Linked DNA regions of Homo sapiens. The protein of the gene in region 2 interacts with the protein of the main gene of each other region in a biochemical or structural test. Each region holds a gene or a part of one and is shown on either strand. Other genes may lie near its edges. The genes, in order: ITGB3, ANKS1B, ITGB2 and COIL.

What was found.
Region 1: the proteins of ANKS1B (region 2) and ITGB3 form a complex in vitro, tested with the Homo sapiens proteins (one study listed by IntAct).
Region 3: the proteins of ANKS1B (region 2) and ITGB2 form a complex in vitro, tested with the Homo sapiens proteins (one study listed by IntAct).
Region 4: the proteins of ANKS1B (region 2) and COIL form a complex in vitro, tested with the Homo sapiens proteins (one study listed by IntAct).

Annotation. Positions count from the first base shown.
Region 1 is NC_000017.11:47,305,561-47,313,076, reverse strand, and holds part of ITGB3 (integrin beta-3 precursor), read right to left. Parts: intron 5,607-7,516; coding exon 5,440-5,606; intron 2,939-5,439; coding exon 2,873-2,938; 3' UTR 1-2,872. UniProt on the Homo sapiens protein: Integrin alpha-V/beta-3 (ITGAV:ITGB3) is a receptor for cytotactin, fibronectin, laminin, matrix metalloproteinase-2, osteopontin, osteomodulin, prothrombin, thrombospondin, vitronectin and von Willebrand factor.
Region 2 is NC_000012.12:99,981,489-99,989,446, reverse strand, and holds the start of ANKS1B (ankyrin repeat and sterile alpha motif domain-containing protein 1B), read left to right. Parts: upstream 1-4,510; 5' UTR 4,511-5,209; coding exon 5,210-5,343; intron 5,344-7,958. UniProt on the Homo sapiens protein: Isoform 2 may participate in the regulation of nucleoplasmic coilin protein interactions in neuronal and transformed cells. Isoform 3 can regulate global protein synthesis by altering nucleolar numbers.
Region 3 is NC_000021.9:44,910,636-44,918,151, forward strand, and holds part of ITGB2 (integrin beta-2 isoform 1 precursor), read right to left. Parts: intron 151-7,516; 5' UTR 148-150; coding exon 90-147; exon of another isoform or gene 1-89.
Region 4 is NC_000017.11:56,943,641-56,951,156, forward strand, and holds part of COIL (coilin), read right to left. Parts: intron 7,357-7,516; coding exon 6,249-7,356; intron 6,128-6,248; coding exon 6,041-6,127; intron 5,795-6,040; coding exon 5,747-5,794; intron 2,872-5,746; coding exon 2,802-2,871; intron 1-2,801. UniProt on the Homo sapiens protein: Component of nuclear coiled bodies, also known as Cajal bodies or CBs, which are involved in the modification and assembly of nucleoplasmic snRNPs.

The DNA.
Region 1 (7,516 bases), on a different chromosome or scaffold from region 2:
GCTTGAACCTGAGAGGCAGAGATTGCAGTGAACTGAGATCTTGCCATTGCATTCCAGCTTGGGCAACAAGAGTGAGGCTTTGTCTCAAATTAAAAAAAAAATCATGGATGACCTGGGAATCTCAGAGAAGTAAAGAACTGACTCCTAATATGGCAACTTGTCAGGAATATTCAAAGTTTTCCGTTATTGTCCACAGATCCTGAGACTGGACATAAATTTTCTCCAAAAGAGCTAGACACAATCCCTTTGTGCCGTGTTATCTGATGCCAGAACACTGTTTAGCTGTTCACCCCACAGGCCAAAACTGCTATTTGCTACCTCATGAATGCAGCTACAGGTTATCCCCACATATTGACAAATAATATTGGTCTTCAAGACCTGTGAACTTCATTCCAGTAGCTCAGACAAGATTCCTGATTTGATTCACCTGTTAAATACATTTTCTTCCCCCTTTGATACAGTTTCTTCATATAAAACATCTTATCTAAAGAAAATGTCCCATTAACACTCTCATGGACTCTGTCTTAGTAACTGAAGATTATAATCACAGGCGTGAGCCACCACACCTGTCTTAGTAGCTGAAGGTTATAATTACAGGCATGAGCTTCCACACCTGTTCCCTGCCACTATTTCTAAGGACTTCTTGGATCCATGACTATCCCTCCCCGCCCCCTATTTATCCCTCTACCATACTGCCATTCCCTACAGTAAGGAGTAATCCATGGGTGAGACAGGGCTCAGTCATTGCCCCATATCTAATTCCAAGGCTTATTCTCAATGTTAACACAATAATACAGAATAGATATTTCAGCTACTTATGGATTCCTCTTCCCTAATATGTGGATGCAAATGTGTGCAAAGTGAAGAAAGAAATAATAACTAAATGAAGCTTAAGTGCTACATCAGGAGAGACGTAACTATTAACAAATGTTGGAAAACGGGTTTGGAGAGAGGATAGAATGAGACTTTCATTGAGAAAGGTGATATGGAATGACATCTGCTCTTGCCAAAGCCAGGTCTCTCAGATCTCCCAACTAAAAACACAAACAGTATCAATATCCCAGAGAATCTTAACCGCACATTTGATGACACAGTAAGTCCCAGCATCTTAGAATGTTGATACTGAAAGAGACCTTCAAGACTGGCTGCTAAAATCCCATCATTTCTCAAACTAGAAAACAGCTTTAAGAAGAAGAAAGTGACTTGCCTTAATTAAAGATTATTTAGCTGTAACACTGAGGCCAGAGCTCCAGTTTTCTGCTCATGGAACAAATGTTGATAAGTCTTTCTTTTTTTCTTGGGCATTTGGGGGTGGCTTTTAATGTTGGATGTATGTCAACACCAATGGAGCCACTGCTTTTCTGGGACAAAAGAACAGTCCCTCTTCCTCAGGAAAGGTCCAATGTGTCCACACATCTATCCCCATAGCCTTCTATCATGAGAGAGCCCCTCACAGATCCAGCCACTGGCCAGTGACTTGCTGTGAATGATGCCAAGTGGGAGTGTCTGTACCCTGCCCAAGTCTGTGTGGTTTCCTATGCTCTCCTTCTTTGCCATCACATAAATTTACAAATATAATGCAAGCATGTTTATATACATGTTCTTTTAAGTTAAGAAAACCTCATCATGAGAAAAATAAAATAAAATTGCACTGTGGCCTCTCAGATTAAAGACTGAGTTAAAATGAGGTTGTCCAACCCATAGAAGAACAGGCCACACGTGCTGATACAACTGACCCATCATTCCATCCTGGCACTTATTCCCAGCCAACTCATGGGAATAATTCCTTCACAAGGCAGCCAAGAGGTAGAAGGTAAATACAATCAGCCCCATGGATGGATACAGCACACCAAGGCACAGGGCCAGGTATGTGGAGGTGCTATGGATGAGGGACAGGAGGCCGGAAGCATAGGGCCAGACCTCTGGCTCTACAATAGCACTCTCTCCCTTTGAGGAAAAGCATTTGGTCATGAGAGACATCCCCAGCTCATAGCAAATGTCTACAGCAGTGAGGGTGTGGAATTAGGAGGTAAAGAGATGGTGCTGGCCTAAGGGTGACACACTTCTTCTAAACAAACCTCCAGAGTAGAGCTGCCAATAAGGCAAATCTGAAGGGTTGTGATTATGAACTGGGAGATGCTGGTACATCCCCCAGGCCATGAATGACCCCTGAGTGGCCCAGACATCCTCACTCCCAACAGGTCAAAGAATTAGCTTGCAAGGACTTCCCTTGCGAGAGAACCATAGCTGGGTTGAGGGGATGGCAAAAGGCACAGGCAGCTCTAATAGTTCAGCTCTCCCTGACTCCTCCTTCGGCCTGAGGGAGGGGAAAGGAGGCAGAGGTACAGATGACCCGGGCTGCCAAGCCCAGCAGTTCCTACCATAGCTGCTGAGAGTCAGGCCTGAGAACCATAAATTTATGAACTCAGGGTAGAGCCAAGGCTTGGTGTCCCTTCCTCTGGAATGAGAGGCCTCAGCCCTGCCCTTCTCTTCAGGGACAATGGCCTGATGAGGAAAGCTGGCTTCTCACTGAGGTAATGAAGAACACCTGCTCAGCTCCATAGTCACCCTCAAGCTAAGCAGGAAGAATCCCTGCAGGAGGCATTCTGGGACAAAGGCTAAGGAGCTCAGCTTATCAGGACACATCACAATTTTAAATTACACACTCCCACACACAACACACACACATAAACACACAGACCCCCACATACACACACACAGACCCACACTTCCACATACTGACATTCTCCCAACCTACCCCACTCTGAGCCCCAAATCCCTCCCCACAAATACTGTCCTCTGTAAACATGATGGCAGGGACTCCTGCAATCGTGGCACAGGCTGATAATGATCTGAGGATGACTGCTTATCATTAAGTGCCCCGGTACGTGATATTGGTGAAGGTAGACGTGGCCTCTTTATACAGTGGGTTGTTGGCCTGTGGAGGAAACAGAATAGCATCTTACAGTGACTTCCTTAAGTCCTTCCCTACCCTGAATGTTTAAAATTCATCTCAGAAGTTTTCCCAAGGCACCGTTCTCTGGAATACATCATCAATGAAACAGAATAATGTTCATTTTGCTCACACTTTAGTTCTTGGCATGGGAATTGATAGGAAATAACAGGAGGAGATGAGGTAGAATGCCATCCTGCCACCGTTTCTTTTTTTTTTTTTTTTTTTCAGACAGGGTCTCATTTTGTTGCCCAGGCTGGAGTGCAGTGGCACAATCTCGGCTTACTGAAACCTCCACCTCCCCTGACTCAAGACATCCTCCCACCTCAGCCTCCCAAGTAGCTGGGACTACAGGCACACACCACCATGTCTGGCTAATTTTTGCATTTTTTTGTAGAGATGGGGTTTCTTCATGTTGCCCAGGCTGGTCTCAAACTCCTGAGCTCAAGCGATCCACCTGCCTCAGCCTCCCAAAGTGCTGGAATTACAGGCATGAGCCACCACACCTGTTCCCTGCCACTATTTCTAAGGAGCTATATTCAGCCTATCACTCTTCAGTGATTCCACAGCATTCGGGGATAGAACCTCTCCTATTTCACCCCTGTGTCCCCGTCTCTTTTGCCCTTCTCCTATTTTCCATTCCCTGTGACAGTGATAGGAGATGTGGACAAGGGACAGAAATGTATCAGGTGCAATTCAGAACACAGAGGAAAGCTTTTGCTCAAATAATTATTAATTTGTTTTCATCTAATCTGGCCAAGCACTAACCATGGCCAGGCATGGTGGTTTATGCCTATAATCCCAGCACTTTTAGGGGCCAAGGTAGGAAGATCACTTGAGCCCAGGAGTTCTAGACCAGCCTGGGTAACAGAGTGAGACCCTGTCTCTACAAGGGAAAAAAATACAAAAATTAGCTGGCTCGGTGATGTGTGCCTGTAGTCCTGGCTACTTGGGAGGGTGAGGTGGGAGGATCACTTGAGCCCAGGAGATGGAGGCTGCATTGAGCCATGATGGCACCACTGCACTCCAGCATGGGTGACAGAGCGAGACCCTGTCTCAAAAAAAGAAGGAAGGAGGGAAGGGAAGGGAAAGAAAAGGAGAGGAGGGGAGGAAGGGAAGGGGAGGGGAGGAAGCGTAAAAGGAAGGGGAGGGGAGGAGAGGGGAGGGGAGGGGAGGGAATGGGAGAGGAGGGGAGAGAAAGAGAAAGCACTATCCACAAACTGTCATGTTATCAGGAAAAAGTAAGACCCTCACTAGGTTTCCCAAACTATTTTCCAACAGAAAGTAACAAATCCTATAATGGTAGCTTCAAGAAACACATTCTTAGCCAGGCGCAGTGGCTCACGCCTGGAATCCTAGCACTTTGGGAGGCCGAGGCGGGTGATCACGAGGTCAGGAGTTCGAGACCAGCCTGGCCAACATGGTGAAACCCCGTCGCTACTAAAAATACAAAAAATAGCTGGGCACAGTGGCTGGCGCCTGTAATCCAGTTACTTGGGAGGCTGAGGCAGGAGAATCACTTGAACCTGAGAGGCCAAGGTTGCAGTGAGCCAAGATCGCTACACTCAAGCCTGGGTGACAGAGCAAGACTCTGTCTCCAAAAAAAAAGAGAAAGAAACACATTCCTGTGGGCCTCATAGGTACAGGATGTTCCACACTGTTCTAACAGAAACATCTCAGTTTCTTGGGACCCTTGAGTATAAAGCTCTGGGGTCAACATCAAATGGGAACAAACTTGCAGCCTAACTCTGGACATTTGGGGAGTCAAATAGCCATTTGGAGGGTCGAGGAAAAAAGTTGAAATGTGAAAGAAGAGCCAAAAGAGAATAGAGTAAGATTAAGTATATAGAAAGTTCTCAGTAAATGCTTATTTAATTGGAATAAATCAGGATAAAAGAGTAGAGTCTGATTTGGAAGTAACCTTTTATTTTATTTTATTATTATTATTATTATTATTATTATTTTTGAGACCGAGTCCTGCTCTGTCACCCAGAGCAGGGTGCAATCTCAGCTCACTACAACCTCTACCTACTGGGTTCAAGCAATCCTCCTGCTTCAGCCTCCCGAATAGCTGGGATTACAGGCATGCACCACCACACCCGGCTAATTTTTATATTATTAATAGAGACGGGGTTTCACCATGTTGCCCAGGCTGGTCTCGAACTCTTGAGCTCAAGTGATCTGCCCACCTTGGCCTCTCAAAGTGCTGGGATTACAGGCACGCGCCACCAGGCCCAGCCTGGAAGTAACCATTTATTTGAGGAGAAAGAAGAGAATGAGATGGAATGACATCCTGCCACTATTTCTAAGAGGCTGAAGGAAGCTGAAGGACAAGGGGATAGTGAGACCATCTCTCCCAGTTTCCAGAACAGAGGATAATGGAAAGACGATGGTACTGGCTGAACATGACCACCCAAAGCATCTGCTGCTTCCACTTAAGAGTCTCAGACCAATGACTTTAGAAAACGCCCAGCCCCGTCTCTTACTGTGTCCCATTTTGCTCTGGCGCGTTCTTCCTCAAATTTAGCGAATTCTTTTCGGTCGTGGATGGTGATGAGGAGTTTCCAGATGAGCAGGGCGGCAAGGCCAATGAGCAGAATGGCCCCCATCACTGAGAGCAGGACCACCAGGATGTCAGGGCCCTTGGGACACTCTGTGAGGAAGAAGCACAGAGCAGGGCGGTTGTGAATGAAGCAGGAGTCACTTGAACTGGCTATGAAAAAGGTGTTCTTGACAAAGTAACTAAGGTCCTTGAAGGAAATAGGACAGTTTTCAAAAATTAATTTTTTTAAGGAGACAATCATTAGGACAGCAATAATCTGCACTGAGTGGCTCAAATCAGAAGTCTAGACCTGGTAACCCCTAGACAGAACCCAGCCACACCTTTGTGTGGGGGTTCACCCAAGTGTTTATTTTAAAAATTAAACACAAAGAAGAGAACACCAGACACTGGGACCTACTTGAGGGTGGAGACGGGGAGGAGGTGGGGATCGAAAAACTACCTATGAGTCACTATGCTTATTACCTGGGTGATGAAATAATAGGTACACCAGACCCCCATGACTCACAGTTTATCTACGGAACAAACCCACACATGTACCCCTAAAGCAAAAATAAAAGTTTTTTAAAAAATTAAAAATAAAAAGCCGAGTGTGGTGGCTCACACCTGTAATCCCAGCACTTTGGGAGGCCAAGGTGGGCAGAGCACCTGAGGTCAGGAGTTTGAGACCAGCCTGGCCAACATGGTGAAACCCCATCTCTACTAAAACTACAAAAATTAGCCTAGCATGGTGGCGAGCACCTGTAATCCCAGCTACTTGGGAGGCTGAAGCACAGAATCACTTGAACCTGGGAGGTAGAGGTTGCAGTGAACCGAGATCACACCATTACACTCCAGCCTGGGTAACAGAGCAAAACTCCATCTCAAAATAAATAAATAAATAAATAAATGAATAAGAAATAAAAAATTGACTTTATTGGCAATATTGAATAATCAGGAGATTCTCCCCCTAAAATTTCATATTAGTCTCTTTAAAAAGAAAATCCAGGCCAGGCCCAGTGGCTCATGCCTATAATGCCAGCACTTGGGAGGCCGAGGCAGGAGGACAGCTTGAGTCCAGAAGTTCAAGACCAGCCTGGGCAACATAGTGAGGCTCTGCCTCTACAAAATTGTCTTTTTTAATTAGCCAGGCATTGTGGCATATGCCTGTAGTCCCAGCTACTCAGGATGCTGAGGTGGGAGGATCGTTTGAGCCTGGGAGGTCAAGGTCATAGTGAGCCATGATCGTGCCACTGCTCTCCAGCCTGGATGACAGAGGGAGAGACTATCTCAAAAGAAAGAAAGAGAGAAATACAGAAAGAGAGAGATTCTTATATTCCTGCAGAGCAGCAGTTAGCTAGAGCTGAGGAGGAGCTGCTCCTTTTAGTTGGAACTCATGTTTTCTAGTTTACCAGAATCCCCACCACTCTCCCTTCTCTCTCCTAGAGGAAGGCAGTGTGACTTGTTGGTGTGTCTGCGCTCCTGTGGATGTTACAGCCAGACTCCCTGGGTTTGAATCCTGACTTATCACTTAACTTTTATACATGATCTTTGGAAAATTACTTAACCTTTCTGAATGTCTGTTTCCTGTTTCTCCATCTTTAAAATGAAGATAGTAATAGCACTGACTTTAAAAGAAACTTGTTATGAGGAATGATTAAATTAAATATATCTTAAAAACTCAGAACAATGCCTGGCACAGAGTAAGTGCTCAGTAAATATCAGCTACCGTTGTAACGGATCTTCTTACACCCAGCTGTTTTCACTAACTTATTTGCTTCCTTAGCCACTGTAAGTATTTGTGTCTGTTATCCTGGTTCAGATATTTACATTCCTGAGGGCTGTGAACCTAATGACATTTTTTGCATTCTTAGAGACCAGGACCTGCCAGCCAAGACAATATTTTGGGTTCTTTCCCAAAATACTTAGTCATCTAAAATCATAACCCTATTGAAAGCTGCCTTCCTGTTCAACCCCAGTCAACAACTAAAACAGAGGCATGTCACCCCTCTGGGGGTCAGGCT
Region 2 (7,958 bases):
GGGGAAATAAAAAGAAATGGTGAAAAATCATTTATCTGAATTTTGGGTAGATTCTCTTGGTGGGAAAATAGTTTGAAGTGGATACAAGACTATATTTTTTCAGCTGGCCAGGTGCAGGGTCACCTGTGGGGCACATAGGCTTTCAAAGGTAGTAGCACATAGGCAGGGTGGCTCGGAGAGAGTTAATGGTAGAATCAGCAGGATGGTGATGGAATGTTGTGTAGTGTGACGGTCCTGGGGGAACTCTTATTCCTCATCACTGACTTTCCCTAGAGGAGAGGAGGCTCTGCTCCTCTTTCTAAGACAGTGAACACTTCTGGTTTCTTTCCCTACTTCTATCCATTGGGACCACTTTACTAGTGGGTGGGGCTACCTTGCTTTCAAAACAAGATACAGGCTCAGCTCTGGTTTTCTTTCTCTCTTGCCTGTCTCATGGATCACTAAGAAGGGTAGTGGGCTTTATTCTGCTTGCTGTCCCAAGATGGTGAGATTCTGGGGTAAGAATCTGTTTCGGCATGCTTTCCAAAGGCAGCCCTGGAAACTGATCATTCTCTCCATTCCTCTGACTTTATCTGTGAGATAGGCATTAGTCTGGCTGGGTATATACATTTAGATTTGCAGATCTACCTTTCCCCACAGGTAGGTCCCAAGGTGCACATTCACAGAGAGGTAGGCCCTCGTCTCATTTTTAGTGTAGTTTTAGCAGGGATTTTGTGGGATATTAGACCCTTATATGACTCGTAATAAAGATGATATGCTAATGAGATACTCTTTGATTCCTTGTGTCTGCGTTCAGCTAATTATAACTTGGAGAAGATGGGTGATTGGTGTTCTGTGGCCTTCAACATTCATGGCCATGAATCTTCAGAAAAATTGTAAATATAATACACTTGGTGTTTGGGTTCCCTCAGGAAGATGATGAGGGACAGAGTTTGTGCCATGTGGCCATGTGGAGAAGAACTTTAATGTCATGCAGGAAGCAAGAACCTGCTCTTCTATCCAGATGTCTAGTATTTTCACATTCTGTAACCTGAAGCTGTTGACTTCATAGTTCTAGTGATGCAGAGTAACTTCAGAACTTGAGATGGAGAAAGTAAATCTACTTCATAAATCACAGGGTTATCTTCTTATTTCAGCTCTGTTGATAACTTCATGTTATAAGATATTATCTTTTTCTCTTCTTCACTGAAAACAGACCTTGGTATATAATTCTAAGATTGGTCTGGATTCATGGTCCTTCAATTTCTTTAATGTTTCCAAAGAGTTTTGTGTGTGTGTGCAAACACTTCTATACAAAAACTGGTATTTGCTTCACTTCCCCCTTCTAATCTCAACCCCTAGTCCCTTCTTTTATTAATCAACTCCTAGAAGAGTGACTTGCAGTATGTGTATATTAGAGCAATAATTCTTGCCAAAAAGTATCCAGAAGTAGATTTATATCAGAATTTGAAATATAAGGGATTCAGAGATTCTGCAGGACTTATAATATCTTCTTACAGTGTTACTTCAGAATTAAATAAAATGAGAGAAAGTAAAGGGTATAGTATCATTCCTGGCACAAAATACACATGTACTATTATTATTATTTTATTTTATTTTATTTATTTATTTATTTTTGAGACAGAGTCTTGCTCTGTCGCCCAGGCTGAAGTGCAGTGGCGCGATCTCCACTCACTGCAAGCTCCACCTCCTGGGCTTACGCCATTCTCCTGGCTCAGCCTCCCGAGTAGCTGGGACTACAGGTGCCCGCCACCATGCCCGGCTAATTTTTAGTATTTTTAGTAGAAATGGGGTTTCTCCATGTTAGCCAGGATGGTCTCGATCTCCTGACCTCATGATCCACCCACCTTGGCCTCCCAAAAGTGCTGGGATTACTGGCATGAGCCACCATGCCCGGCCTACATTTGCTATTATTAATACTGTCCATTGAGAATAGCAAAGATAGATTTAAAAACCCGAAAAAATATATATTTATTTTATAATTAAAAACAAAATAGAGGGTGGCCGAGGCAGGTGGATCACTTGAGGTCAGGAGTTTGAGACCAGCCTGACCAACATAGTGAAATCCTGTCTCTACTAAAAATACAAAAATTAGCCGGGCGTGGTGGTGGGCGCCTCTAATCTCAGCTACTGGGGAGGCTGAGGCTTGAGAATCACTTGAACCTGGGAGCAGAGGTTGCAGTGAGCTGAGATCGTGCCACTGCACTCCAGTCTTGGCAACAGAGTCAGACTCTGTCTCAGAAAATCAAATCAAATAAAAACAGAATAGAAATCTCAAATCTATCTCCATACTTAATTTCTAGCTTCAGTGATGCAAATGACTTAATGGACTAAGACCACGTTTCATCACAGGCATAGAATATTATGGCTGGCAAGGCCAGTGGAAGGCATCCGACATAACTTCTTCATTTTACTTATGCACACACTGAGATAGAGATTGTCTAATTGGTTCCCAAGATTCTATCACTCTTTTCACTATTCACAGATGCAAAACATCTTGATGAAATCTGGATGTTTAAAAGATCTGGATATTTATTTTGGCCTCTGTAGATTTTTAAAAGAATGTTTTCACTTTTATTTTGCATGTTAGTCCCCATGTAGCCAAAGCCTTTATCCTCTTCAACAAAAAACTATGAGGTGCAGTCACTGCAATGTCTACAGAAAAACAAAGTTATGAGGTCACTAAAACCAAAGAGTTTGAAGCTGAAAAATTGGCTTTGATTATCATATGTCAGTAGAATGCCCGAACTGTGGAACTGATTCTTAGAGTAAATCATTACTAATGGTTTTCCCATTGGGGGTGGGGGCTGCATGATTTCGATAAGATGACTCGGGGCCTGCGGTCACCAACTCATCCATGATTAAATGTTGCTTGTGAAAACTGTGGGTGATTTTCAGTTCTGACCAATTGAATACTTACAGTATATTCTGGGAAAGGTGTGTTTTGCTTAGGTGGCAACATTAGGAAAAAGGAAGAAGGATTTCCCTATGCCATTTTCAAAATGAATGTGATGGCTCCTTATCTCGTTTCTTTCATTGGTCTGCTAGTCCCATTATGTCAGGGATTATATTATTATAACATAGATTATCTTATTAAAACAGATTCTAACACAGAAAACAAAATCAAAATGAATTAAAAAACTACACTAGCCAAAATCTACATACTTCAGGAAACCTCCAATAAATAGCCATAATTTACCTAATATTTTGAATCATTGAAATGAAATCTCAGAACACAATGAATTCCATAAAAATGTTTTAATATACTCTTGTTATTTATCTCTAAATGCCTTTTAAGTTTCCCCCAGTTATTTATTGAAAATCTTTGCCTACAGCAGACAGTGCCGGATTTGAGCCTTGGCTCAGTTACTTTCTATCCCTATTATCTTGCGGGTAATCAGTTTCTTCATCTCCAAAATAGAGATGAAAATGGTCCTATCTCATGCGATTGTTGCAAGGCTTAATGAGAACATGGAAAGCACTTAGCATAGTGTCTGGTATGTAGCAACTACTCATCAAATGCATGCAATAATTATTGTCTGTCCATTTCGCTTTTCCATGGGGGGCAGGAACGTATATTGGGAAGCACATGGTGTCTGGAGTGAGTCTGTTCTGGGGTCTAGTTCTGAGTCAGCCACTTACTCCATGTGGCATCTTGAGAAATTTAATTAACCATTTGAGCCCTATTTCCTCATTTCTAAAATGGATATAATAATATCCAGTTCACTGGGTTGTTGTAAGCACAGTGCCTATTAAGTCCTCTTCTTACCAATCAATTATCAACAAGTGAACATTTATGAAGTCTATTCCAAGGACAATGCAAAGCACAAGGTGTAACAGGAAGTTTTAATAGAAAATAAACGCGCGTTCTCCACCACGGCCAAGGAGAGCATCTAACAAGTCATGCCAACCATGCACAATGAATTGCTGATGATATATGCAAATTAAAGTGGATCTCTAATCCATGCCCATTTATATTTTTCGAGTGTAGATGTGGATAAATTTTCAATGAGAGCCTTTTTCCTGGTATTCTTACAAGTCAGCAGATCTCCAAAGCCCAACTAAAATATGGGCTGATTAAAGACTCCAGAAAAACTGAAACAGTCGCAAACTGCTCGGTGGCCAGTGCCACAGAAACTAGGACGAAACGAGCCTCTTCTTTCTAACCAAGGGCAGATCTCAGGCTCTCTTGGGGAGGTAAAGCGGAAGGGTGAAATGCCGGTCAAGTTGCCTAGACTCTGATGGAAGCGGTGGCCAAAGGGCCCCTCCCCAGTGTCACCAGCCTCCCCATTCCTGTCACGGAGGATTTTCCTCAGGCGTCGTGACAGACCCGAGGCGTGTTGCCGGGGCCCGCCGGGCCGAGGAGGAGCCGACGCGGCCCGGGGAACTCCAGTCCTCACACGGTTAACGCTCTTCCAAGGAGAGTGGAGGAGGGAGGGTCCCCGCCCACGAGAACGAAGAGAATCTCAGGGCCGAAGCCCCGCCTCAGCCGGCCCGGCCCCTCCCCGCCAGCCCGCCACCCAACTCGGGCCGCACCAGGGGCCGCACCTGCCCGCGCGCACACGCCCCCCGCGCGCCAGGCCTCGCCGCCGCCGCCGCCCTCGGCACGCGCCCGCTGCGGCTGCCCCCCACCGCCCTGCCTCGGCGCGGGCCACAGCGCACGAGCCGCCGCCGCCGCCGCCGCGCTCCTCCCCGCCGCGGACGCCGCCCCCGCGTAACCGCCGAGGAAGCCGAGGCGAGCCCGGGTCGGGCGCGAGGGCGCGCGGGCCGCTGCTGCCACCGCGGGTGTTCCCTGCGCTCCCGCTCCAGCTAGGACTCTCTCTGCCGCCTCCTCCTCCTCCTCCGACCTCAGTCCTCACCACCCTCCTCCCGCTCCTCAAAAGCACCCCCGAGTCCCCACCCCCTCACGCCGCACCCGCGGGAACGAGGCCTTGGGAATTCAGGGGAGTGGCTGTGGGGGCGCGTCGCGGCTCCCAGCTCGGCCAGCCCCTCTTTCAAGACATGGTCTGATCCCCATTGTAAAAGCTGCGCCCCGAAGAGGAGGAGAGAGTCGTGCTCCCTGCCTGGGGCTGCAGGGAGCTCTCCGTGCTGAAGCTCTTGCATTATTTTAGGGTGGGGCGAAGAGGGCCCTGGATTTTGGGGAGTGGGGGTGGGTGGGGAGGAGGACCCGAGGGGGGCAAGGACTCTGTGGGGGAGTCGGTGAGAGACTATGGGGAAGGACCAGGAGCTGCTGGAAGCTGCTCGCACTGGAAATGTGGCTCTGGTGGAGAAACTCCTGTCTGGCAGGAAAGGAGGGATCCTGGGCGGTGGATCCGGACCCCTGCCCCTGTCTAATCTGCTAAGGTAAGGACGGGCACCAGCTCCGGGGTTGGCACACCTCATTATGCATTGTGATGGATATACGTCCTCCTCCTCACGGTTATTGCACCTGGTGGCTGCCAGCGATTCATTCTTAAATTAGGTAGGAAAACAGACTGCGTGTATGGAGAGGAGGTATGAGCCTCCCAGTCAGATTGATGCCTTAGATTCTTTGAGTAATTTTAAAATAGCCTTCCATCAATGCGTCAGTAAGCTACTTTTCCTCTGAGCCCTGGTGCAGAACTTGTACATGTACTAGTGTTGCTTGAAGAAAATCGACGTTCCGCCCGCTTTCCATCAACATTTATTACATATTTGCAGCTTTGAACGCAGCCTTTTTTGTCTAGTTAAATGAAATTGGCAGAGAATCTCTTGCGTGCATGCAATTACCCTGCAAAAGCCACAGCCTTCGGTGGCTCCTACCTTCTCTTGCAGAAGGCGTTTGCTGTGCCGTGGGTTATGATCCCACAAAATGAAGTGAGTGAACCTTCTTTCTGGTGAGATGTCTTCAGCACAGGGTGTGTATAAAACTTGATGGGGCAGGTTAGGCAGCCCCAGCAATACTTTCAGTTACCTGGACATAGCTGAGTGAAACTTGGTTGTTATAGCTCAGGATGAAGGATGCCAGGTTGGTATTGGGATACTGTATATGGAGTACGGTAGAGGCCTTTTAACGTGAAGATGTCGTAGGTGAGACTGGTATTGCTTGGAGAATCTTTCTAAGATGACATTTAAAAAAAATGTCAAGGTCTTCATTCAGCAGTACCTTGGAAATAGCGGGGTTGATTTCCATACTTGAGAAACTATTAAAAGTTGTATTGATGGACAAATGAAATCAACTGGGAGGGAGGAAGCCTGGAGAGTATTCACTAGATACAATTCAAGGGAAGCTCTTTAGTTTCTAAAATCGTGGCTATCCAATTTATCCTGGGTATTTTTGGAGTCATCAATTGTCATTCATATCTTCGCCTTAAAACATCTCTTGGATAACCCAACTATAGTTGTAAAAATTTTAGAAAGCCCAAGTGATTTCCCTGGTTTTTTAAAAACTGTTCCATGCTACCCTTGACAAGTGCTTAATAGAAACTTTTGGGTGATGACATTGCGTTCTTTACACAAGTTCTCATAGGTTGTGGTGGTCAGACAGTGCAATTAATTATAGGGCTAGCTAAAAGGGAAAATGGAAAGTTTCTATTACAGTGAAATAAATTGAGTTGAAAAATAGTCGATGGGATTTTAAAAAGCCCCATATGTTATTCTATATACTCGTTGACAGTGACATTTTATTGGAATGATAGTTCATGTCAGAAGAATGAATATTTATGGGACATTTTTTCAATAGGTCATAGAGATGACTTGTGTGTACTCCCTTGTTAAATAATCTTCTCTTTCAAACACAGGTAGACAATGTGTGCATATTTCAGATTGCAGCTCTAATAATTGCCTGTAGTCACATGTAGTTTATGTGAAAGCAATTTATCTCTTTACAGTTTTAAGTTACACGTAAAATAACAACGTTTGCTGTGGATCCATCAGTTATAAAAATGATTATGTCTAAAAACTGGTATGCTGAAAGAATTTTCTCAAAATAAACAATTTCTTCGGGAAAACATGAGGAATTATTTGAGAACAGTGAGAATTTCACTTAATTTTATTGTGATAAATCGTATTTTAAAAACACTCCTTGTGACAAAACTCAAAAGCAAACATCCTTTAAATACTCCTTTCCCAGCTGTGATTTTTTTTTTTTTTTTTAAAGAATAGATGTCAAGTTTTAGGGATAAAACACCAAGTATTTAATGTTAGTGGACACTAAAGTATCAAAATAGTGACCCACAGTGTATATCTTGAGTGAGAGGTTTTCTCTTTTGCTGGTGTAGTAGTAGTAGTAGTAGCTCTACAACAAAGATTGCACATAGAAAACAAAAGTAAACAACATGTGTTTATTAGAGTACTTCGAACCAAGTTGTAAAAATCACAAACAAAACCAATAACCTTTAAACTTGCTTTTATCCATCTTATACTGAATAGTGTCTGAAGAAAATGAGAGTTGAAATTGTATTCTTTGGGCAATCATTTGCATAAAATGACATTCCTAAGAAGGCACATTTTATTTAGTTGTCACTTTATTTCAAAAATGATTGTCATCAGAAATTTATTGGCAGGATAATGGAAAATGTGTCCCCCGTCAAACATAATGACACTTTGAAATTTCTTAATGTTTTAGAAGGAACTGTAGAATATGTTTGGCACTTTTTCCCCGCTTGCTTTATTACCTGGGTTGTGTAATAATGGTGTCAGACCCTATGCTAAGTGCTTACACGTGTCATCTCATTCAATTCTTGTGTCAGCCTTAGGAGGTCCATTGTCATTTCACAGATGAAGGAATAAAAAGATAAGATTAAGGACTTGCCCATGGTCACTTAATTAATAATGGCAAAGATTTGAAAATCTGTGATTCAGATTTGTTTTACAACATTTTAAGTCTCATTCATTGAATCTGTTTTATTCACAAAAGTTTAAAGGTATGTGGCCAATTTAGACAGGCCAATCTGAACATTTTTTGCTATGAAGAATAATTTGAAATTCCTTAAATTTTG
Region 3 (7,516 bases), on a different chromosome or scaffold from region 2:
CTTCTGTCTATGGGAAAGTGAGGGCAGGCCCTGTTCTCCCTGATTGGAATGTCACGCGTGGAGTCCCCTCCGTGGAACACAGAACTCACCGCACCCGAGGGAGAGCAGCCCCACCAGGGCGAGCAGTGGGGGGCGCAGGCCCAGCATGTCCTGTGGAGGGAAGGGGTCTTGGTGACGGTCTCAGGCCCAACCCCTGGGGCTGACCACCCATGAAGCTCCCCTCCAGCTGGCCTGGGACAAGGAGCTGGGGCCCTGTCCCTGCTGCAGGGGGTGGGTTAGGGTCAGGCCAGCACAGCTGCACTGGGCCCAGCTGCCAACAGCCAGGGAGGGAGGGATCCCGGGCTCAGCAGTGCGGGCAGCACACCTGCTCAGCCAGGCACCCAGGACAGCTGCAGCGGGCCCCTGCAGAGGCACACAACACAGGCACACACACACATGCAGACGTGTACACACACCACACATGCACGTGTACGTGCATACAGATGTGTGCCTGACTGCATGTACACACCACGTGCATGCACACACCACACATATACATGCATCACACCACACATATGTACACACAGAGATGTATACACCCCTTACCCACACCATACTCCCCGCAAGACACTACACACCACACACAAATATACACATGCACACGTACACACACATACACACCACACAGACACACACACCACACGCACACACCATACACACGTGCAAATGTACACGCACACAAACACCAGAACCCCACACACCCGGTGTGTGCACTCTGCCCCAGTGTGCCCCAGGTCCTCCGTGAGCAGAGCCTGTGCTTGGAGGAGAGCTGGGCTTGGCCCTGTCTCTCTGTGGCAGAAACATAGCCAGGAAGAGAAAGCTGGCTGGATGCCCGCGGGTGCCAGGCTGTGTGCCAGGAAGAGAAAGCTGGCTTGATGCCCGCGGGTGCCAAGCTGTGTGCTAGGCCTGCCCAGGAGCCCTGCAGTCCCTGCCAGGTGGGAAAAAAAGTCACCTGACTTGCCCAAGCCACCAGTTGCCGGGGTCCTGCCCTTTTGTTTCCAGATACACACCCACCCCGTCCTTAACCCACGCATCCACAGCCAGGGGCGGCTCAGTGGTCACTCACAGGCCCTCGGCCCCAGAGGCAAAATGACGGAAGCAGGCCTCAGCCTGGTGCTGGAGGCCGGCAGCACCTCCTAGCGGGCAGCAGGGCCGTTCCACCCCTGGGTTCCCTTCCCTCCATCCGGGAGGTGCCCAAACCAGGCCTAGGTCGGCTCCTTGGGGGGTCTTAGGGCTTCCTAGGTGGGGTGGGCCCCTGGGTCTGACCTCCCAGGACCTGAGAACATTATAGCTGGCTGGGACCCTTTTATCTGGCACCAAGAAGGTGGAGAGGTACTGAGAAGGGGTACCCAGGAGCCTTCCTGTCATGGTGGGCAGGAAGACATTTCCGTTACCCTGGGGCTGTTGTCAGAAGCAAAGATCAACACACCTCCTCCAGCAAATGCCAGTTCCTGTCACGGCCTCCCAGGCTGCTGGGGCGTTCCTGCCCCACACCCTTCCCTCGGGTGGTGCTGGCAGGGCCACCCAAGGTTCAGTGGGCAGACCCAAGCCAGCAGAGCCCCAAACTAGGGCCTGCCGGCTTTGAAGACAGCGCTGGGTGCTGTGCTGTGGCCCGGGAGGCTCGGGTGCCCTCAGCCACAGGCCCTGGCTCCCCTCCATCCCCCGAAAGCCCTGCACCTGTGCTGGGGGCTCTGAGGCCAACGGAACACCCACCAGGGGCCCATCTGAGGATCCCACAGCTTAGACGCCCCAACAAGCCCCAAGGTCCTGTTGTTTTGGCAGTGACCTCATTCCCTGGTTCCCAGCAAAATTATAATCAGAATACAAAAATGTCAAAAGGGAACCCTTGATCCTTCCCGTCCTGGGGTCAAAAACAGAACCTGCACCCTGCTGTAACTTCCTGGAGGAGGTGGTTTTGGTTCACATTGGGCCCACCCTGTGTCTGAAAGCCCCCATATCTCTGATCGTTGGGGGTTGTGGTTCAGGCCGAGGCCAGTTCCAGCTCTCCATCTGGGCCCCCTCAAAGTCCTGCGCCTGGACTGACCTCGGTGCCACGAGTGCCCACCAGCCCCTCAGCTGATCGGAGGCCCTGTGCGTGCTGGAGCTACCCCAGGGTGCAGGGTCCAGCCAGCTTCAGGACTCCCCCAGGGTGCAGGGTCCAGCCGGCTTCAGGACTCCCCCAGGGTGCAGGGTCCAGCCGGCTTCAGGACTCCCCCAGGGTGCAGGGTCCAGCCGGCTTCAGGACTCCCCCAGGGTGCAGGGTCCAGCCGGCTTCAGGACTCCCCCAGGGTGCAGGGTCCAGCCGGCTTCAGGACTCCCCCAGGGTGCAGGGTCCAGCCGGCTTCAGGACTCCCCCAGGGTGCAGGGTCCAGCCGGCTTCAGGACTCCCCCAGGGTGCAGGGTCCAGCCGGCTTCAGGACTCCCCCAGGGTGCAGGGTCCAGCCGGCTTCAGGACTCCCCCAGGGTGCAGGGTCCAGCCGGCTTCAGGACTCCCCCAGGTCGCAGCTGCGCCAAGTGGGGAGGGGGTGCAGACCTCCCCTGGCAGCCCCAGCCAGGCTGGTAAGGACTCACACCCCAGCTCCACGCTCTCCCTGGGGCCGCAGACATGAGGTCTCCGCCCCTAACACAGTCGTGACCAGTGGCATGCAAACACTTCATACCCTCAAATGGGGAAACTGAGGGCCCCAGCAGCAGCAAGATATGGACCTGGTGCCCAGTTACCCCGGGCACTCCCACCTGCCCACAGGGAGAGGGGGTGCACCTTGATTCCAGCAGGATTGGCTCAGAGACCACGGCACCCCAACCTTGACCACAGGAAGGGGGCTGGTGGGGAGCCACCTTCTCCCCACTGTTGCTCCTCCATGAGCAGCCCTGGGGGGCTTGGAGCTGGGGGCACAAGAGAAGCCAGGCCCTGCCCCACCCCCCAATGCCAGTGGCTGAGCCCAGACAAACAGCTGGGGATGAAGGTCCGCTCCAGGAGGTAAGGCAGTGCACTGAGCCTGGCAGCCAGCCTCCCTTCTGTGGGAGAACAGGGCAGGGCAGCCCCTCTGCCCAGCAGCCAGGATGGCCCACGGAGGTCCAGGGCCTCACCTGAGGCCTGAGAGACCAAGACCCCATCAGGCCTATCTGCCTCAGTTTCCTCCATGTGCCTGGAGGTGGTCGAAGGGCCTGTGCCAGCTCCCTGGGGGATGGGAATGGGTAAGGCACAGATGTAGGGCAGCATTCGGGCAAACAGGTGCCTGGCCACTGTCACCTCTGGTGCCCTGAGGCTAAGCCGGCAGAGCTGCAGGGCAGGAGGGGAGGAAGAGCACAGACACCCCCCACCCCAGCCCCTGAGCTGGCCCCAGAGCTCTGGCCTGGAGCCTGATCACCCTGAGGCCCTCCCTGCTGCCCCACACTGGGGGCAGGTGCCCTCCTCATTCTCCAAGGCCCTCCCTGCTGCCCCACACCAGGGGCGGGTGCCCTCCTCATCCTCCAGCTCTGGACATCCCCCATCTAAGGGCGGGCGGGTCCCCTTACCAAGACCTAAGGTGCAAAACCCAAAGCTGAGGCTGCTTAGGAATCCACAGCCCCACAGGCCTCTCAGAACCTTGCATCAGAGTCGCCCTTGACCTCAACCCTGCCCGAGAAGGAAGTGCTGGTGCAACCCCAGCCCAGCTGCAGGAAGTGGTACCTGTCACCAAGTCCCCTGCACAGGGGAAGCAGGGGGCTGAGGGGGCAGGACCAGGGGGACGAGGTCATCCTTCCCCGGAGAACCCCTCAGGGGCCGGGCGCCCTTCCCTCCCGGGCACCAAATGGACACAGCTAACAAGAACCACACTTCACGGTGAGCAAAGCTCTGAACATTCAGGCTCTGAGACACGAAAGCGGCGTCAGAAGAGACCTGCAGCAGATCCGGGCCAAATCACACACACCCTTTCACAGAAGTCGAGGACAGGAGAACAGGAGCAAACACAGGAAAGGAAGAGGCCAGCCTGGTGGCTGACGCCTGCAATCCCAGTGTTTTGAGAGGCCAAGGCAGGAGAATCACTTGAGGCCAGGAGTTTGAGAGCAGCCTGGGCAACACAGTGAGACTCCTACCTCTACAAAAAATAAAAATAGAAAATAAATTAGCCAGACATGGTGGCATGCATCTCTAGTCCCAGTTACTCAGGAGGCTGAGGCAGGAGGATCACTCGCGCCCAGGAGGGAGAGACTGCAGTGAACCCTAATGGCACTGCTGAACTCCAGCCTAGTTGACAGAACGAGGCCCTGTCTCAAAAAAAAAAGAAAAGAAAAAGAAAGGAAACTTTAAGCAAGACAGCAGAGAGAGGGCAGAGCCTATGCTGGGAGAGGAATCCAGCGGGGTCAGGCTTCCTTTTTATTTTTTTGAGACGGAGTTGCGCTGTCACCGGCCTGGAGTGCAGTGGCGCGATCTCAGCTCACTGCAAGCTCCGCCTCCCAGGTTCATGCCATTCTCCTGCCTCAGCTTCCTGAGTAGCTGGGACTACAGGCTCCCACGACCACGCCCAGCTAATTTTTTTGTGTTTTTAGTAGAGACGAGGTTTCATCGTGTTGATCAGGATGGTCTCGATCTCCTGACCTCATGATCCGCCCACCTCGGCCTCCCAAAGTGCTGGGATTACAGGCGTGAGCCACCGTGCCCAGTCTCAGGCTTCCTTTTTGCAACCCCGTAAAACCCTAAGACGAGACTGCTTGAGGAACCAGAGGCCCCGCAGACCCATTGGAACTTTGCATCAGAGCTTCCTCCTGCCTGTGCTGAAACCCACCTTGCGCTGTCCTAGAGGAGAGGCACTCGCATCAAAGTGACTCGGAGGTGCGCGGGAAGTGATGGACGATGCCGCCAGGGGACAAGGTTGGAAGGAAGAGGACATGGGAGCCAACCCCTGCGCTGGGAACTGAAGGCTCAAGGGATGATTATAAACTAGGCATCCACCTTTTAAGCCAAAAGCCAGAGCATCAAGATGGACTCATTTCTGCTTTGTAGGAATGTGATAAAGAACTGGAGAGAAGTGCCGTCAGGTGGGGACTGGAACACTGTCCTTGGATCACAGAGGCTCCAGGAAATCCAGGGACAAAAACAGGTCAGATCAAATAGGAACAAGTCGGAGCAGAGAGGATGCAGGAAAACCCAGCCCATGTCGCCTCTGAACCTGCGACCCTGCAAAAGCGTATTTTCCCAAGGGTCAGGGAGACGTGTTCCTACTGTTGGTTTGACTATCTGTGAAGTTTGATAGCACAGTTTTGTTTGTTTGTTTGTTTTTTTGAGATGGAGTCTCACTCTGTCATCCAGGCTGGAGTGCAATGGCTAGATCTCGGCTCACTGCAACCTCCGCCTCCCATGTTCAAGAAATTCTTCTGCCTCAGCCTCCTGAGTAGCTGGGACTATAGGTGCACACCACTAGGCCCAGCTAATTTTTGTATTTTTAGTAGAGATGGAGTTTCACCATATTGGCCAGGCTGGTCTCGAACTCCTGACCTCGTGATCCGCCTGCCTCGGCCTCCCAAAGTGCTGGGATTACAGGCGTGAGCCACTGCGCCCGGCCTGATAGCACAAATTTTAAAGGCCACAATTTCTGGCCAAATGAAATAAAATGAGACACCCCACCCCCCCGACACACACATATTAATAAGGAATGCTAAAGTACTCTGCTAAATACCTGAAGTCAAAGGGAAATCAAATGATATTTACAGCATTTTAGACAAGGGGACACCACTCCTCCATCTAACATGAAGGAGACTGTCTGTTCCTGGGTGGCGACGTGAGGCCGAGGCCCCGGACACTCTTGCTGTGGACATAAAAGAATGGCCACAAATGTGTAGGACTTCAGTTTTAGGGAATAAAACAATAAAGGAAATAGAAGAATAGGTATCTAAGAGTAAGGAAACCTCAGCATAAAAGCTAAGGGGAGGCCGGGCATGGTGGCTCATGCCTGTAATCCCAGCACTTTGGGAGGCTGAGGCAGGCGGATCACCTGAGGTCAGGAGTTTGAGACCAGCCTGAGCAACATAGTGAAACCCCATCTCTACTAAAAATACATAAATTAGCTGGGCTTGGTGGCGGGCGCCTGTAATCCCAGCTACTCGCGAGGCTGAGGCAGGAGAATCACTTGAGCCCGGGAGGCAGAGGGTGCAGTGAGCTGAGATCTCACCTCTGCACTCCAGCCTGGGCAACAAGAGTGAAACTGTCTCAAAAGAAAAAAAAAAAAAAAGCTAAGGGGGAAAATAGCAAGAAGACAGACTCTAAAAATGGCACATGTTGTACTAACAAATTGCATAGAGGAAATAGCTATTATCTCTCTAGTGCAAAAGGTAAATGGTAATCTTCATCTCTAAAGAGATCTTAGAAATTAATAACAAAAAGGTAAATACTCCATTCAAGGATGTTTCAAGGGTGTGGCACCCTGAGCAGGTAATTCACAAAAGAAGGAAGAAAACTGGCTAAGAAACATATGAGTCACCCCAGGAAAGAACCAGGGATTTCAGCCAAAATATCTTGATTCCCTGTGTAGCCGTCAACGTGTAAGATGCTTTGGCGGTTTCGGTGCCTGCGCTATGGAGTCCCACACAGCAACGAAAACATGCAAACAGCTGCTCAGGGCAGCTTGGCTTCGTGGTAAAAGTGAATTTATGGGGAAAAAAAGAGAGACACAGTTCCAAAATATTCTGCATTTCTCTGGGTGGTGGCACTATGAGTATTTTCAATTTTCATTATTCCTGTTTGTATTTTCCACCCTTTTTGTGATAAATGAATAAAGGACATTTTAAAAATGGAATTTCATGGTGGCCGACGAATTATGCTGAAATTGCTCCTTCGGATTCCAAAGCTACTGGCTTTCTTGTTCCCACTGTGACGTTGATGAGGACGCTGCTTCATGGCAGTGGGACCTCCCTGCTGGCATGGGCTTGTTGCCACTGTCACTCACCCATTCACCCATCCATGGGACAGGGGCTTGCCAGCCTCTCCTCTAGGCACGGCGCAGGGGCTGAGAGCTGCACTCCAGGACTCCTGGACTCTGCCCTCTGCTGAGACTCTCAGCACCTCTTTTCCCCAACACCTACCCCAAGTTTCCATCACACACAGAAACCTCCACCACTCCCAACACCAACATGTGTCCCCAGCGAGGCTGTTTACAAATCAGCTGGGCAGGAAGGTGTTCCCCTGGGGCTAACTCTTCTGCACTCTCAGACCCTGAATGGCCGGAGAGAACACGCAGCCCGGGGTGGGCAGGGGCCTCAGCTCAGGACAGCACCAGGGCCCTCTGTGCTTGCTCAGGGCCTGGGCTCCACACACATGGGCTCGGAATCGACAAATGCAACCACCTAATCAATGCCCCGTGTCAGTGCCAGTTTGTGCCAAGCAGAATGGGAGGGATAATTGCTGGCACCAGGTCCGGCTTGGGGTGGGTATCACCCACAGCTCCATAATTGCTAGGCGCCCACTGCAGAGCCCCTTGAGTTGGGGCTTCCCAGCGAC
Region 4 (7,516 bases), on a different chromosome or scaffold from region 2:
CTGACTTGACTGGTAATGGATCATGACGCGTATCTGTTATTTATGTTATATAGTGATATGTGGACTAAAGAGCTAGCAGTACTTCATGCACTTACAGTTAACATATGCAATGTTGCTGGGGGACTAGTATTACTTAACTAAACCAGGGTAACTGAAATATATGTATATCAGAACCACCACATCAAGGACAAGTGACATTGCTATTAGAGAACAGATAAATCCATTTCTTTCTTTCTTTTTTGCTTTTGAGACAGGGTCTTGCTCACTCAGCCTGGAGTGCAGTGACGCAATCATGACTCACTGCAGCCTCGACCTCCTGGGCTCAAGTGATCCTCCCACCTCAGCCTCTCAAGTAGCGAGGACTACAAGCATGTACCACCACACTCAGCTATGTTTTGTTTTTTTTTTTTACGACAGAGTCTCACTATGCTGCCCAGGCTGGTCTTGAACTCCTGGGCTCAAGTGATCCTCCCACCTTCGCCCCCGAAGCCATTTCTTGATGCCCTAAAGAAGAAAAGTTCTAAGTGGATGTCATCACTATTAATCACCTGACAAGCACTGATCAGGCTGTATGCACAGAATTTGACAGTGGACAAACTTTTCTGTCCACCGTTCCTAAGAAAGGGGATTTCTATAAATGAAATCTCATCAGAAGAAAGGTTGGAAACCTGGCCAGGCACGGTGGCTCATGCCTGTAATCCCAGCACTTTGGGAGGCTGAGGTGGGAGGATCACGAGGTCAGGAGATCGAGACCGTCCTGGCTAACACAGTGAAACCCCATCTCTACTAAAAATACAAAAAATTAGCCAGGTGTGGTGGCGGGTGCCTGTAGTCCCAGCTGCTCGGGAGGCTGAGGCAGGAGAATGGCGTGAACCCGGGAGGCGGAGCTTGCACTGAGCCGAGATCGCCCACTGCACTCCAGCCTGGACAACAGAGTGAGACTCCATCTCAAAAAAAAAAGAAAGGTAGGAACCCAGTGTAAGTTATATATAAACATTTACTTAATATCATAAACGAACTTTGTTCAAAAACTCTTTCGACTGATTTCTGTTAGCTGAATCTTTTATTCAATCCCTTATCTAAAAATAAACAGAAGGCCAGGTGCGGTGGTTCATGCCTGTAACCTCAACACTTTGGGAGGCCAAGGTGGGTGGATCACGAGGTCAGGAGATCGAGACCATCCTGGCTAACATGGTAAAACCCCGTCTCTACTAAAAATACAAAAAATTAGCCGGGCATGGCGGCCAGCGCCTGTAGTTCCAGCTACTCGGGAGGCTGAGGCAGGAGGATGGTGCGAACCTGGGAGGCAGAGCTTGCAGTGAGCCAAGATAGCGCCACTGCACTCCAGCCTGGGCGACAGCAACACTCCGTCTCAAAAATAAACAAACAAACAAACAAACAAACAAACAGAAAACAGGCTGGGCACAGTGGCTCACACCTGTAGTCTCAGCACTTTGGGAGGCCAAGGCAGGTGGATTGCTTGAGGCCAAGAATTCAAGACCAACCTGGCCAACATGTCAAAATCCATCTCTACTAAAAATACAAAAATTAGCTGGACATGGTGGTGTGTGCCTGTAGTCCCAACTACTCTGCAAGCTGAGGCATGAGAATCACTTGAACCTGGGAGGCGGAGGCTGCAGTGAGCCAAGATTGTGCCACCACACTCCAGCCTGGGCGATAGAGTGAGACTCTGTCAAAAAAAAAAGGAAAACAATTAATTGCTTTAGGATCTTCTAAAGGAAAAGGAATCTCCCCTGCCCTCTGGCCAGGGACCCCTACAGTACACCCCAAGTTAAGCTACATATTATAAAAGCCCTCTTATTCCACGCATTCAGTTCCAGTACCAGGTGGGGTTCATCAGAGATAAATCCAGCAACCATTTAAAATGATATGTGAAAGTGTATGTATACACACACTTCAGACATTTTGTTTTGACTTAATATACAAAAGTATATTCATTTGACAATCTTTTGAAATAGAGCTGAGTAGGTCTTATGAGTTCACTGAATAGAGCTCTTTTTTTAATAAACCATACCATTGTATTGTCTGCAATTTCCACAATTTACAGTTTGGGGGTTTTTAAAATATTTTTTGAGACTAAGTCTTGCTCTGTCACTCAGTCTGGAAGGCAGTTGCACTATCTCGGCTCACTGCAACCTCCACCTCCCGGGTTCAAGCGATTCTCCTGCCTCAACCTTTCCAGTAGGTGGGATTACAGGCGTGTGCCATGACGCCCGGCTAATTTTTGTATTTTTAGTAGAGACAGGGTTTCACCATGTTGGCCAGGATGGTCTCAAACTCCTGACCTCAAGTGATCCACCAACCTTGGCCTCCCAAAGTGCAGGGATTACAGGTGTGAGCCACCGTGCCCAGCCTGGGTTTTTCTTAAATAAGGCAAGATTGCAAAAATTTGCAAGGCAATCTAAGTGCAGAATCTTCCTCAGTTTTTACAAAATTCCTCCCAATCTTTTATAGCTGACCCACTCATCCATAATTTCATAGCATTTCCTGAGTCAGCATTCAACTTAGGCTTCCTAGGAATAATTCTTTTTATAATCGATTTTCATCAGTTCATATAATCTTTTATGAAATTATATAATTACAGTAATAAGAACTAGCCCAACAGCTTTGGAATATATCCAACATCTCTTATGAGCCCCCAGGGCTAAAGTGTGCTGAAAGAAGTGGGGAGCGCCAGTTATATGGAGGCCAAGGAAGAGAACATCTCCTGTGTATAAAAGCTATTTATAAACCACTGTAGATAGAGCCTACATTTTCAAATTATTTTCTAAAAGACTCACCAGGTAAGGATGAAAGAATTTCTATATCTACTTGCTGGGTCTCTGGATTGTGGCTTAATATTCTTCCTTCCTTTCAAAAATAAAAGTCCAAGTCAAAATCAACATGTAAAACACTGTGAATATACTAAAAACCACTGAATTGTAGACTTTAAAATGGTTAAAATGTTGAATTTTATGTTATGTGAATTTTATCTCAGTTGAAAAATTTAGAAATAAATCCACATATAGAGAAAATAAAAACAGGTGGACTGATAAACACTTTATGTGAATATACAGAAATATCTTTAGAGGCAAAATAAAACATTTAAATCATAAATGGCAGACACTATCTTAAATAACTCGATGAAAGTAAAGATTACACCAGGGAACCAAAAGTGACTGAATAAGGGAAAAGGAGAAAAAAATCACACCAGGCTGATATATTCAAGTGAGCACTGACCATCACAGCATTCATCAGGAGAGACTAGATATATCCTAATGGTGCAGCCTCGGTTCCTGATGCTTTTAGAACCCTTCTAAAACAGTGATCACAACCCCCCAGGAGAAACCAGAAGGCACTTTATCACTGTTAAGATCCCAATTCTCCTTCTCCCAGGTCTCCAGCTGTGGGAGCTGATTTTCTAATGCATCAAGAGGATGCACTGCCCATGCACGTGGGCGATGGGGAGACACATGGTAGCCTCCGGGGGTATATACTGAGAGGCCAAGCAACCAGTTCCTCCTGCCTCTACCTGGAATTTCTGAGCACAGTCAACAGTTTTTTTTAAAACCAGACTCAACAGGGAATCAGGGGCTTGGGAGACTACATTTTTTAGTACAGAATTGAACCAATTTAATTTTTGGAGACAAGGTTAATGAATAAAGCAGATGATCAAGCTGGATAACTGCGTTTGAGGTCAAAGCAAAAAAGTAGGACCAATTTTCATTCTTAAAATGTTTTTGAAAGCAATTTCAAAAATCTTCAAAAAATTTTGCCAACTAAAGTAGGCAAAACACCTTCCAACATTAATAACTATGACAACTAATACCAATTTAATATGCAATTTTTTTTAAGAGTCTCGTTTTGTCACCCAGGCTGGAGTGCAGTGGCATGATCTCAGCTCACTGCAACCCCCACCTACTGCGTTCAAGTGATTCTTGTGCCTCAGTCTCCTGAGTAGCTGGGGCTACAGGTGCACGCCACCATGCCAGGCTCATTTTTATATTTTTAGTAGAGATGGGGTTTTGCCATGTTGGCCAGGCTGGTCTCGAACTCCTGACCTCAAGTGATTCACCTACCTTGGCCTCCCAAAGTGCTGGGATTACAGGCATGAGCCACTGTGCCTGGCCATTAATAAGCAATTTTTAAAAATCAGTATCATCTAGAATTACAATTTATAGAGGTTGTGGGATGTATCAATACAATATTCATTTCCATTTCCTCATATATCACACAATTAAATGTTTTCTATGGTAGGGTGACAAAACACCCTGGTTTGTTCAAGACAGGTCTGTACATCTTTCCAGCATAACTATTAATAGCATCCCTTTGACTCACAAGTATCCTGATTCAGGTGATAAATTACATGATCACCTCATCCATAGGAGATAGTAAGTGCCTAAGAAGATAAAAAACAAAACACCAACGACCTAGAACTAACCCACCAGATCCCTTCATTAACTGATTCTTCCAGCCTGCTTTTGAGGAAAGATTTTTTTTTTTTTTTTTTTTGAGATGGAGTCTCGCTCTGTTACCCAGGCTGGAGTGCAGTGGTGTGATCTCAGCTAACTGCAAGCTCTGCCTCCCGGGTTCACGCCATTCTCCTGCCTCAGCCTCCTGAGTAGCTGGGACTACAGGCACCCGCCACCATGCCCCGCTAATTTTTTTTTTTGTATTTTTACTAGAGACGGGGTTTCACTGTGTTAGCCAGGATGGTCTCAATCTCCTGATCTCGTGATCCACCCACCTTGGCCTCCCAAAGTGCTGGGATTACAGGTGGGAGCCACCAAGCCCAGCCTTGAGGAAAGGTTTCTATAAAGATTTTAAGTCTTCCAAGGCATCAATCCAGATTAAATCAAATTCCCTTGTATTTTATCTATGTTACTATATTAACACTACCAATTATTACCTTAAAAAATGGTCTTACATTCCATATAGTACATCAAAAAAAAGAAAGAATGCACTTTAACAAGATTTTCAACAAAATGTTGGTGGGTGAAAAAGAAACATGTAATTCTGTGATCCCTCTGACTGAGTCAAGCTTTTACTGAACTATGAAAAACCTCACATGCCAATATAAAGACTCATACAGATATTAAGTAAGTAAATTCCACGGATAATATTTATGAATTACCTGTGGTTACCTGATAATGCAGAAGAAATCATACTAGATCATAACAACCAGAAGTAATTCACAAATATGTAAAATAGATTCCCATGATGAAAATAATCAAATCTTCTTGCTGAGAACTATTTATTATTTTCTTTCAAAGTTTAGAATCATGAAGGAATGAATACCCAAATAAGTTGGTCTAAACTAATTAGAAAAAAGTAACTAAAAAAATTAAACTGGCTGGGCATAGTGGCTCACACCTGTAATCCCAACACTTTGGGAAGCCAAGATGGGGGGATTGCTTGAGCCAAGGAGTTTGAGACCAACCTGGGCAACATAGCAAGATCCTGTCGCTATTTAAAAACAAAAAATTAATATATTTTTTTTAAAAAAGTAAAAATTAAGCTCATCATTCTCCTACTCTATTCTTCCCAAGTATAAGGCAAATAACACAGGGAGACTTCCCAGTGATACTATTAAAGAGTTGACATTTCGATTAATGTTTTCATTTTCTACTTTCTGGCATTTTTATTTAGTAAAAAAACAAATCTGTATTATCCATACAAGTAGTATTAAATATGACTTTAGTTTTAATAATACACTGACAACTTACTTTTAAATAAACATCCTTACCTTGTAGTCAGAGACATCAGGAGAGTAACTGGATGTTAGCTCCAAAAGCTAAAAAAGAAGAAAAAACCCACAAATACATAAGCCCTCTTATCCTCTCCCATTCCCACAGCTCCTCCATCATGCCATGTTGGCGTGTCCACCCCGACCAGTCTGGGAGCCCTACCAGGAACCCGTAACAACACTGGGGTTCCAGTGGGAAGGGCTTTTACAAACACATTTAACCTGATTTTCTAAGTAAGTTTATTTGGAAGGGGAATGAACCTTTTTTGCTGTGACTGTTCTTTTGAAATATACCTTAAATGCAATCTTTTCTCCAACTTGAGGGGCAGCTGCTAACAGTGGTAACAGACTATAGTCCTTCTTGGGTGTCTCTACTGGATTCTGAAAAACAGTGTTAGTCATGTGACATCATCACTGGTGAGAAAATGTGAATCCATGACATGAACTCCACACACATTCTAAGGGGAAAGGGAGGAGATAACTTACAAAAAATAATACTTACCTGGATAATAGTAGATGAATTTTTTACCACGTCATTTAATTGCTGTTGCCTCTGGTTGTCAGTGCTTCTATTTACAACACAGGAAACAGGATGCCCTCGTCCTCGACCTCTCCCCCGCATGCCCCGTCCCTTAGCTCCCTTCCAAGAAAAAAGGTTCTCTTCTCTACCCCATCCTCTTCCTAAACTAGCAGGGAGAGACACACTGGGAGAAGCACCAGGAGCCTGTCCACCACCATTTGAGCCAGAACGCCTCCATCCAGCAGCACCTGCAGTCTGTGATGACAGCCCTGGGCCTGGACGACCTCTTCCTGCAAAAAGGCCTACTGTCTTTAAGAAACCCGCAGCACACTCCGGGGTGCTCGATGACATCAAGCATTGGTCGTCTGACTCTGCACTAGAGTCTGAACTGGAAGATGTTGTTCCAGAGGTCTTGCCCTTGCTGGGGGTAAGGCTAAAGCCAAGTTTTATAGCCAGTTTGTCTGCAGTTGTATTTTTGGTAGAGGGTTCTTCCTTTGATAACTCAGTTGGTAATTTCTCTGAGGAATTTCTGGCCTCCAAAGTGACTTTGCTGGGACCATCACTGATAGATTCATCACAAGATTCAGACTCCGAGGAGGAACTGGGACTCTCTTTTGAGCAAACGCTTACACTACCTTTCCTTTTGGCTTTAACAAGGCTGTTTCTAGCAGAACCTTTTGGAGAACTACATCTCTGATTGGCCCAGTCTTTCACTGCCTGTACTTTCGGAGACTTGGGATTCTTAGCCTTTTTTTTATATTCACATTTCTCCTTTTTCTTTGGTGATTTTCTTTTGGCCTCTTCGTTATCATCACCCACTGTGCCACAGGTTGCTTTATTTTTTCTCTTGTTTTTTTTGCTGACAGTCTGATCTGTGACAGCTTTTGGTTCCAGATCCAAGACCTTCTCATTATTGTTATTGTTCTCTCGACTCTTCCAATGCTTCTTTGAATATTTGCAATCTGGTTCAGTTTCTTCACCCTCCTCTAACTGAAATGCCCGCTTCTTTGCTTTTCTAAGAGATAAATTAATGTCACCATTACTGATGACTACAGAATTCTCAGCAACTCCTCTCTCTTCTAATTTAACTCTGTCAAAAGAACAAGAGAGAAAGCTAGAGTGAGCAATTTATAAACACATCTCCAGGACATAGTTATATACTGAGATGACTCTACAAAATGTAACTACCATCAGTCAATGAAAAAATGTCACATCACTTAAAGACAAAAGACTCTTTCTGGCAAAATGGC